Homo sapiens: one gene and its partners. Changing the gene in region 3 together with the main gene of any one other region gives a genetic interaction. Each region holds a gene or a part of one and is shown on either strand. Other genes may lie near its edges.

The links. A genetic interaction does not mean that the proteins touch.
Region 1: changes in CENATAC (region 3) and PDCD7 together harm fitness more than expected from each alone (negative genetic interaction), as found in Homo sapiens cells (one large-scale study listed by BioGRID).
Region 2: changes in CENATAC (region 3) and METTL17 together harm fitness more than expected from each alone (negative genetic interaction), as found in Homo sapiens cells (one large-scale study listed by BioGRID).

What each region holds. Positions count from the first base shown.
Region 1 is NC_000015.10:65,120,344-65,123,808, forward strand, and holds part of PDCD7 (programmed cell death protein 7), read right to left. Parts: intron 1-3,465. UniProt on the Homo sapiens protein: Promotes apoptosis when overexpressed.
Region 2 is NC_000014.9:20,992,980-20,995,257, reverse strand, and holds part of METTL17 (ribosome assembly protein METTL17, mitochondrial isoform 2 precursor), read right to left. Parts: intron 2,141-2,278; coding exon 2,067-2,140; intron 1,290-2,066; coding exon 1,195-1,289; intron 716-1,194; coding exon 645-715; intron 465-644; coding exon 357-464; intron 94-356; coding exon 25-93; intron 1-24. UniProt on the Homo sapiens protein: Mitochondrial ribosome (mitoribosome) assembly factor. Binds at the interface of the head and body domains of the mitochondrial small ribosomal subunit (mt-SSU), occluding the mRNA channel and preventing compaction of the head domain towards the body.
Region 3 is NC_000011.10:119,000,712-119,004,986, reverse strand, and holds part of CENATAC (centrosomal AT-AC splicing factor), read right to left. Parts: intron 3,375-4,275; exon of another isoform or gene 3,162-3,374; intron 2,035-3,161; exon of another isoform or gene 1,394-2,034; intron 1-1,393. UniProt on the Homo sapiens protein: Component of the minor spliceosome that promotes splicing of a specific, rare minor intron subtype. Negative regulator of centrosome duplication.

The sequences.
Region 1 (3,465 bases), on a different chromosome or scaffold from region 3:
GGGTATCCCTGTGTTTCTCAAGCTGGTCTTAAACTCCTGGTCAAGCAATCCCCCTGCCTTGGCCTCCCTAAGTGCTGGGATTACAGGCATGAGCCACTGTGCCTGGCCCTACCTACTAATTTGTAAATTTTTTGTATGAGGTCTCACGAGGTCAGGAGATTGAGAACATCCTGGCTAACACGGTGAAACCCCGTCTCTACTAAAAATACAAAAAATTAGCCAGGCATGGTGGCAGGTACCTGTAGTCCCAGCTACTCGGGAGGCTGAGACAGGAGAATGGCGTGAACCTGGGAGGTGGAGCTTGCAGTGAGCGGAGATCACACCACTGCACTCCAGCCTGGGCAACAGAGTGAGACTCCGTCTCCAAAAAAAAAGACCAAAACTTTTTTGTATGAGGTCTTGCTATGTTGCCCAGGCTAATCTCTAACTCCTGGCCTCAAGCAATCCTACCAGCTTGGCTTCCCAAAGTGAGCCACTGCATCCAGCCCAAATGGCCTTTTACACACGTTTTCTTATCCCAAAATTTGTGTTATAATGAGGAAGTTTAAAAGTCCTAGCTATAGTATGTATCGGTTAAAATTTAGAAATTTTACCCAATCTTTTAAGGCTCAATTTGATGTTTCTGAGTATTCAATTACTCTGACCCTACCCTGACTTTCTCAACTCCTCCCTCTGGATCATCCACACCACTTAACCTCTGACTTTCTTTCTTTTTTTTTTTTTTTTTTTGAGATGGAGTTTCATTCTTGTTGCCCAGGCTGGAGGGCAATGGTGCGATCTCAGCTCACTGCAAACTCCACGCATCCCGGGTTCAAGCGATTCTCCTGACTCAGCCTCCTGAGTAGCTGGGATTACAGGCATGCACCAACACACCCGGCTAATTTTTGTATTTTTAGTAGATGTTTCTCCATGTTGGTCAGGCTGGTCTCGAACTCCTGACCTCAGGTGATCCACCCACCTTGGCCTCCCAAAGTGCTGGGATTACAGGCGTGAACCACCATACCTGGCTTCGACTTTGTTTATTTCTAATGGTCTTGATCCTCCACTTGAAACAGTGAGCTCACTAAAGGGAGGAACTTGTCTTAACTTCATTGTTTGTGAAATTCCCTTAGCATCAACTCCCAGATCTAATTAATAAACAATTCTTCCTCTGACTGAGTGTGAATTTTGGGAGTGCACACTTGGATGGTGAGGAAGATACACTTAAAACAACCACACTGACCTTGCAGTCTGCTGCTGACAGTAGGCTGACCAACTGTTTTGGTTTGCCTGCATGTAGCACTGAAAGCCCCAAGTCCCAGTAAAACTGGGATGGTTATTATCCTGATTTAACTATGAGGTCAGCTAACAGTATAGCCAACATATCTAAAGCCACAGTGGAGAAAATAGTCAGGTTATTAGGTGATATCAAAGAATTACTGCTAATTTTTTTGGTGTGACAATGGTATCATAGTTGATGATGAGTGTTTATGTATTCTATTTTTGTGCATGTGTGAAATGTTTCATAAAGTTTCATAAGAAAAAAAGATTTTAACTTAATGAATATTTGAGTGGACTGCAATTGTGCACTCACTACCATAATGGCCCTGTAATACAAAAGCTTCCAGGTGAATCAATGTAGAGTGATGTGGATGTGATCTATCCTGTCAGTCCTTGAAGATTTTAAAGGAAAATATGTTACCCAAGCATTTTAGCAATACCAGATACAGGGCCAAGCGTGGTGGCTCACACCTGTAAACCTAGCACTTTGGGAGACTGAGGCAGGCAGGTTGCCTGAGCTCAGGAGTTCAAGACCAGCCTGGCCAACATGGTGAAACCCCATATCCACTAAAAATACAAAAAATTAGCCGAGCATGGTGGCGTGCGCCTGTAGTTCCAACTACTCAGGAGGCTAAGCCAGGAGAATCGCTTGAACCCAGGAGGTGGAGGCTGCAGTGAGCCAAGATCATGCCACTGCACTCTGGCTTGGGTGACAGAGCAAGACTCTTATCTCCAAAAAAATAAATTTAAAAAAAAAGAATACCAGATACAAGAAAGAAAAAAAAAATCCTAATCCCATTACCATAATCAACCATTTTATACTTTCTCACATTCTCTTCAGGTCTTTTTGTCCATGTATTAGCAACTTCATATAGTTCAACGTTACATGTATGTAATTTCCACTTCTCCCTGTTGATTCTGTACGTTCTTCTCCAATCTTCATAATTATTTAATGGCTGTATCCTATTTCATCAAATCAATACACTAGAATATACTTATCAAGTTCCCTACTCCTGGACACCTAAGCTATTCCAAATGTCCTGTTATTATATTGTGATACAATGAATATTCTTGGGCATGTTACTTTTTTCCTTCCTAGGGATTTCTATCAGAAAAATTCTTGGCCGGGCAGGGTGGCTCCTGTAATTCCAACACTTTGGGAGGCTGAGACGGGTGGATCACGAGGTCAGGAGTTTGAGACCAGCCTGGCCAACATGGTGAAACCCTGTCTCTACTAAAAATACAAAAATTAGCCGGGCGTGGTGGCAGGTGCCTGTAATCCCAGCTACTCAGGAGGCTGAGGCAGGAGAATCGCTTGAAACCAGAAAGCGGGGCTTACAGTGAGCCGAGATCGCACCACGGCACTCCAGCCTGGGCAACAAGAGTGAAACTCTGTCTCAAAAAAAAAAAAAGAAAGAAAAATTCTCAAAAATGGAAATGTTTGTGAATACTTTCAAGACTAACAAACTGTGTTCTAAACTGCTTCCTAAAAAAGCTATATATTTGCTCAGTTACCAAACACTTGACACAGAGAAGGTAATTAATAGATACTTCTTCAATGAATGAATGATTTTCAACAAGGTTTTTTTGTTTGTTTTGTTTTGAGACGGAGTCTCGCTCTGTCACCAGGCTGGAGTACAGTGGCGCGATCTCACCTCACTGTAACCTCTGATTCCTGGGTTCAAGCGATTCTCCTGCCTCAGCCTCCCGAGTAGCTGGGATTACAGGCATGTGCCACCATTCCCAGCTAATTTCTGTATTTTTAGTAGAGACAGTGTTTCACCATGTTGGCCAGGATAATCTTGATCTCCTGACCTCATGATCCTCCCACCTCGGCCTCCCAAAGTGCTGGGATTACAGGCATGAGCCACCATGCCCGGCCCTTCAACAGGGTTTTAACAATTTATGCTGCAACTTGTGTTATACAATAGTGCCAGCTTTGAGCACTAAATTTTCAGTTTGGGCTGATAAATGGCATAAATAATGGTTTCTCAAGGTTAGTAGTTCTGTTTCTTGTAAAGTTGTAATTTGGAGGTAGGATTCTTTCCTCCTTCAACCACTACAGCTAAGTGGTTGTGGAACTCACTCTCAAGGCTAACATTTCTCTAGATGATTTTCTCCTAACTGCTTTGCTTCTACAGGTTTCCATTCACTCATTCTCAACTACAGAAACACTACAACTCAAATTTATCTTCTACTAAGTTG
Region 2 (2,278 bases), on a different chromosome or scaffold from region 3:
GAGTGAGGGAAGAAGAAGCCTTACCTTAAGGACCAGATCCCTGGCATCCATGAGAAGGCTGTGCCCAGCTTTTGTTCCATTCTCCACCAGTACCTGTTCACAAAAGGGGAAAATATGCAGAAGACTTGAATTACACGAAAGTATAAATGTCAGTAGCTGTGTAAGAGCAATCATAGAGGGAGAAGGAGTCCTAAAAAGAAATAGGCATTACATAATCAGGATGGAGACCCTCAAAGAGGGATAAAGAAACCCATGAAGGAGAAAAATGGTGAAGAATAAAGACAATGAGAGGAGCAAAGGCATGAAATCCATGAAGCTGCTTCAAGACTTAAGGAGAACAAGGAATTTTAACTCACCAGGAAATGACCTGTCTTACGCCATAAGGTTTGAACTACCTCAGTGCGGTCAGCCTTGCTGGGCAGTTCACTTAAGGAAAAAGCTGACACTACTACATCAAACTGCACCTGAGGACCAAGACAAGGAACATGACAGACTCAACATCTCTACATCCCAAGAATACAACAAAGTCCTAGCCGCTAAATTTCTTTTATCTTCTAACACTCAGTGCTGGGCTGCAAAGCTCAAGCCATAGTTTTCCATCTGCCACATTCCACATTTAGAATATTCTAAACACTGCCACTTGCCTTGGGTGATACAGGTAGAAACTGTCTGAAAAAGACACCTGGAATATAAGGCTCCCCAGATTCTGAACCACCTGTGGAGAAAAGAAGAGGCAACTGTGAGTGTGTAGGAAGTTAGGTATAAACTGAAGAGATATCCAGATAAGAAACATGGCCCCAAGAATAGGTAAAGTGTATATCAAAAAGGGCAGGGATGAGCCAGGTATGGCGGTGCGTGCCTGTAATCCCAGCTACCCTAGAGGCTGAAGTGGGAGGATGGCTTGAGGCCAGGAGTTTGAGACCAGCCTGGGTAACATATGGAGACCCTACCTCTAATTAAAAAAAAAAAAAAAAGGGCAGGGAGAATATTAGGCCTCCTGTCCTTTGATTCTTACCCAACCCATCCTCAGTCCAGCAGAAACCTCTAATACCACCCTTTGCTTGACTATAACTTTAAAAGTAAACCAGATTCATCTTAATTTTTACCCTCTTCTCTACTTCCCAGTAAAACACTTTTACTAGTACCCCTTTGCTTTCTTAACTCCCTCAACTTTGGAAGTGCTCTTGCACTCACCTTTCAGTAGTTTTTCTGCCAAAACCAACATGGCAGCTGATCTGTCCACACACATATATTCACGTAGGCTCTGGCCCCAAATACTGTGAGCAGCCCTAAGATGGCAAAATTATTATAAATCACCAATTCCCATGACCAAGAGTCATCTCTACAAGAGGCCCATTTACACCCAACCCCACCCCTGGGAAAAGAGAGTGTTATGTTAAAGTAGTTGTATAGTTAGTAATAAAATAACTAATAGTGTTATTTTCTTGTTTTATTTACAACTCCTAAAAAAAAAAAGGTAGACTCAGCTGGGCACAGTGGCTCATGCTTGTAATCCCAGCACTTTGGGAGGCCAAGGTGGGCGGATCACAAGGTCAGGAGTTAGAGACCAGCCTGGCCAATATGGTGAAACCCCGTCTCTACTAAAAATACAAAAATTAGCTGGGTGTGGTGGCGTGCACCTGTAGTCCCAGCTACTCGGGAGGGTGAGGCAGGAGAATCACTTGAACCCAGGAGTGGAGGCTGCAGTGAGCCGAGATTGTGCCACTGCACTCCAGCCTGGGCGACAGAGTGAGACACCGTTTCAAAAAAGAAAAAAAAAAGGTAGACTCAAAATACTATTTGTAGGCAAAAACAACTTTGATTGATAATTCCTTTTCTTTTTAATTTTTCTACACATGCGCCTTTTTTTACTTGACATTTCTTTTAAGTTCTGGCCCCAATCCATATACCTTCTTCTGCCTTGCCTAATCTGATGGAAGAAACATTATAGATTCCCAACTTGCCTATTCTCCCTCTGGTTTTCCAGTCTGTTAATTTTGGAGTGGTGTAAGTATGGCTTTCTAGAGCTAAAATTGACCAAGATAGGGCTGAAGAAAGTTACTCACCAGGTGACAGAACCAGTACCTGAGCCAAAGTCCATCAAAGTTTGTGGCTGAAATGCTGGATTTCGAGCCCGGATCTGAAGAAATATACAACATCCCACAGTAGGGTAATTAGATACTTATTTAGGACCTTGATAAATGTGAATTAGGAGGCTATCACAGAGGATGTGAGATGTGAATGCCTTTTGAGATTCAATACAAATACCTTATGGGAT
Region 3 (4,275 bases):
GTGAGCTTAAGCAATCCTCCTGCCTCAGCCTCCCCAGTAGCTAGCACTACAGGCAAATGTCACCATGCTTGGCTAATATAATTTTTTTTTTTTAGAGATGGGGTTTCACTATGTTGTTCAGGCTGGTCTTAAACTCCTGGGCTCAAATGATCCTCTGTCTCAGCCTCCAAAAGTGCTGGAATTACAGTCATGAGCCACTGCAACTGAATTGCCTTTTTTTTTTTAAAGAGACATTCTTGCTATGCTGCCCAGCTGGAGTGTAGTGGTGGGATCACAGCTCACTGCAGGTTCAACCTCCTGGGCTCAAGTGATCCCTCAGGCTCAGGTGATCCCCCTGCCTTAGCCTCCAGAGTAAGTAGGACTATAGGCTAGCCTCCAGAGTAGGTAGGACTATATGCCCAGCTAATCCAGATACCCTTTTTATTAAAAATCTGAAAATCAGGCTGGGACCAGTGGCTCACACCTGTAATTGCAGCACTTTGGGAGGACAAGGTGGGTGGATCATGAGGTCAGGAGTTCGAGACCAGCATGGCCAATATGGTGAAACCCCATCTCTACTAAAAATACAAAAATTAGCTGGGCATGGTGGCGCATGCCTATAGTCCCAGCTACTCGGGAGGCTGAGGCAGAAGAATCACTTGAACCCAGGAGGCGGAGGTTGCAGTAAGCTGAGATCGTGCCACTGCACTCCAGCCTGGGCAACAGAGCAAGACTCTGTCTCAAAAAAAAAAAATCTGAAAATCATTATGGTATGTCATCTACCCTTATTATAATGCTAAAATGATTTCTGATAAAATAGTTCCTAACTCAACTAGAAAACTATAAAGAATGAAAGAATGAGCAGAGTACTCATGATGCCTTTGAGTAAAATCGAAACATCATAGAGCGTGATCTAATTTCCAAATCAATAGGCAGTATTGTAACATTAAAGGAAAGCTATTCCAATCACTTAGAAATACTTGCTAAGTACTGCTTTTTACAGTTATGACAACTGTTTCTATGCATATGAACCAAGCAACCAAATATCTATAACCATGGAAATATCTGATTAGAAATATTTCTAATTTGGGCCGGGCTCGGTGGCTCACGCCTATAATCCCAGCACTTTGGGAGGCCAAGGCAGGCGGATCACCTGAGGTCGGGAGTTCGAGACCAGCCTGACCAATATGGTAAAACCCCATCTCTACTACAATTACAAAAATTAGCCAGGTGTGGTGGCATGCACCTGTAGTTCCAGCTACTCGGAAGGCTGAGGCAGGAGAATCGCTTGAACTCAGGAGGTGGAGGTTGCAGTGAGCCAAGATCATGCCACTCCAGCCTGGGCAACAGAACAAGACTCTGTCTCCCAAAAAAAAAAAAAAAAAAGAGAGAGAAATATTTCTAATTATTGGCCGGGTGCAGTGGCTCACGCCTGTAATCCCAGCACTTTGGGAAGCCAAGGTGGGTAGATCATTTGAGGTCAGGAGTTCGAGACCAGTTTGGCCAACATGGTGACACCCTATCTCTACGAAAAATACAAAAATCAGCCCCTTTTCACAAGATGGCACCAAAAGCTAAGAAGGAAGCTCCTGCCCCTCCTAAAGCCAAAGCAAGGCTCTGAAGGCCAAGAAGGCAGTGTTGAAAGGTGTCCACAGCCACAAAAAAAAGAAGATCCGCGTATCACTAGCCTTCTGGCGGCCCAAGACATTGCGACTCCGGAGGCAGTGCAAATATCTTAAGAGCACCCCCAGGAGAAACAAGCTTGACCACTATGCATCATCAAGTTTCCTCTGACCACTGAGTCTCCATGAAGAAGACAGAAGACACACGCACTTGTGTTCACTGTGAATGTTAAGCCACAGCACCAGAGAAGCTCTATGACACTGATGTGGCCAAGGTCAACACCCTGATTCGGCCTGATGGAGAGAAGGAACATGTTCGACTGGCTCCTGATTACAATGCTTTGGATGTTGCCAACAAAATAGGGATCATCTCAACTGAGTCCAGTTGGCTAATTCTAAATATATGTATATCTTTTCACCATTAAAAAAAAAATTATCAAGGCATGGTGGCGCATGCCTGTAATACCAGCTACTCAGGAGGCTGAGGCAGGAGAATTGCTTGAACCTGTGAGGCGGAGGTTGCAGTGAGCCGAGATCACGCAGCTGCCCTCCAGCCTGGACAACAGAGCGAGACTCCATCTTGAAAAAAAACCTGAAATATTTCTATTGGATTCTGAATACAAAATTTCGCATGGGAGAAATCTTACTTCTTATGCCTGTTACAGTATAATTCCCAAATGTACCATCAGAAAAAAAAAAAAAAACCAACAGCTTATTTTTAAAAGTATACATAGAAATCTTGTTTCTAGGCCGGGTGTGGTGGCTCATGCCTGTAATCCTAGCACTTTGGGAAGCCGAGTCAGGTGGATCACTTGAGGTCAGGAGTTCAAGACCAGCCTGGCCAACATGGTGAAACCCCATCTTTACTAAAATACAAAAATTAGTCAGGCGTAGTGGCACAAGCCTGTAATTCCACCTACTCTGGAAGCTGAGATGGGAGAACTGCTTGAACCTGGGAGGTGGAGGTTGCAGTGAGCTGAGATTGTGCCACTGCACTCCAGCCTGGGCAACAGAGTGAGACTGTCCAAAAAAAAAAAAAAAAATCTTTTTTCTATTCCTATCAACTCTAAACATTTTTACTGACCCACAAACTGGGTCACACCAACTGGTTACACTAACTGATATGTGATCAGTTTCTTTTTTTTTTTTTTTTTTTTTTTTGAGACAGAGTTTTGCTCTTGTTGCCCAGGCTGCAGTGCAATGGCATGATCTTGGCTCAGTACAATCTCTGCCTCCTGGGCTCAAGCGATTTTCCTGCCTCACCCTCCCGAGTAGCTGGGATTACAGGCACAAACCAACACGCCCAGCTATTTTTTGTATTTTTAGTAGGGATGGGGTTTCACCATGTTGACCAAGCTGGTCTCGAACTCCTGACCTCAAATGATCCTCCCACCTCGGCCTCCCAAAGTGCTGGGATTACAGGTGTCAGCCACTGAGCATGGCCATGTGATCAATTTCATTAACTTCTCTAAAAAAAAATTCGTATTTCTTTTTAGAGATGGGGTCTTGATACACTGCCCAGGATGGCCTCAAACTCCTGGGCTCAAGCTATCCTCTTACCTCAGCCTCCTGAGTAGCTAGGACTACAGGTGTGCACCACCACATCTGGCAGTTTCATTAGTTTCTTGATTATCCTTTAGGCATTCCTTTTTGAGAAAATAAGCAAATACAGTTGACTCTTGCACAGCACAAGTTTGAACTGCACGAGTTCACTTGAAAATTTTTTTGGAGATTTGCAACAATTTGAAAAAACTTGCAGATGAACCACATAGCCTAGAAATATGGAAAAAATTAAAAAGGTATGTCATGAATGCATAAAATATATGTAGATACTAGTCTTTTATGATTTACTACCATAAAATACACAAATCCAGGCTGAAACGGGAGAATCGCTTGAACCCGGGAGGCAGAGGTTGCAGTGAGCCGAGATCGCACCACTGTACTCCACCCTGGGTGACAAAGCAAAACTCCCTCTCCAAAAAAAAAAAGTTAAAATTTATCAAAACTTACACACAGAAACACAGACTGTACATGGTGACATTCGCGGTCAAGAGAAATGAAAATAAATGTAAAGATGCAATATTACATAACTGTATAAAATTATAATCCAAACTACAACTGTCACAATTTTGTAGCCACCTATTGCAGTGAACTCAAGTGTTGTATCTGCTTAAAACACAGTAATGCTGATCATCTTGTAAGCAGTTGTCTCACCAGTAAATTGCATATTACAGTAAAAGTGATCACTCATGGTTCCTGCATATTTTTCAGTAATGTCATACCATTAACCTCAAATAGTAACGTGGGACCTATAGGAGGTGCCACTAGTGATGCCTGAAGCACTCCAAAGAAGCAGAGAAAAGTCATGACATTACAAGAAAAAGCTGAATTGTTTGATATGTACTGTAGATTAGGATCTACAGCTGCAGTTGCCCAGCATTTCAAGATAAATGAATCCATGCACATTGACAAAATCTATGTGGAAAAAAAAGGGTGAGGGGTAAGCATGGTGGCTCACTTTGGAAGGCTGAGGCAGGCGGATTGCTTGAGCCCAGAAGTTCGAGACCAGCCTGGGCAACATAGCAAAACCCCATCTCAATTTAAAAAAAAGAATTTTTTTTTTCCTTTTGAGACAGAGTTTCGATCTTTTGCCCAGGCTGGAGTGAAGTGGTGC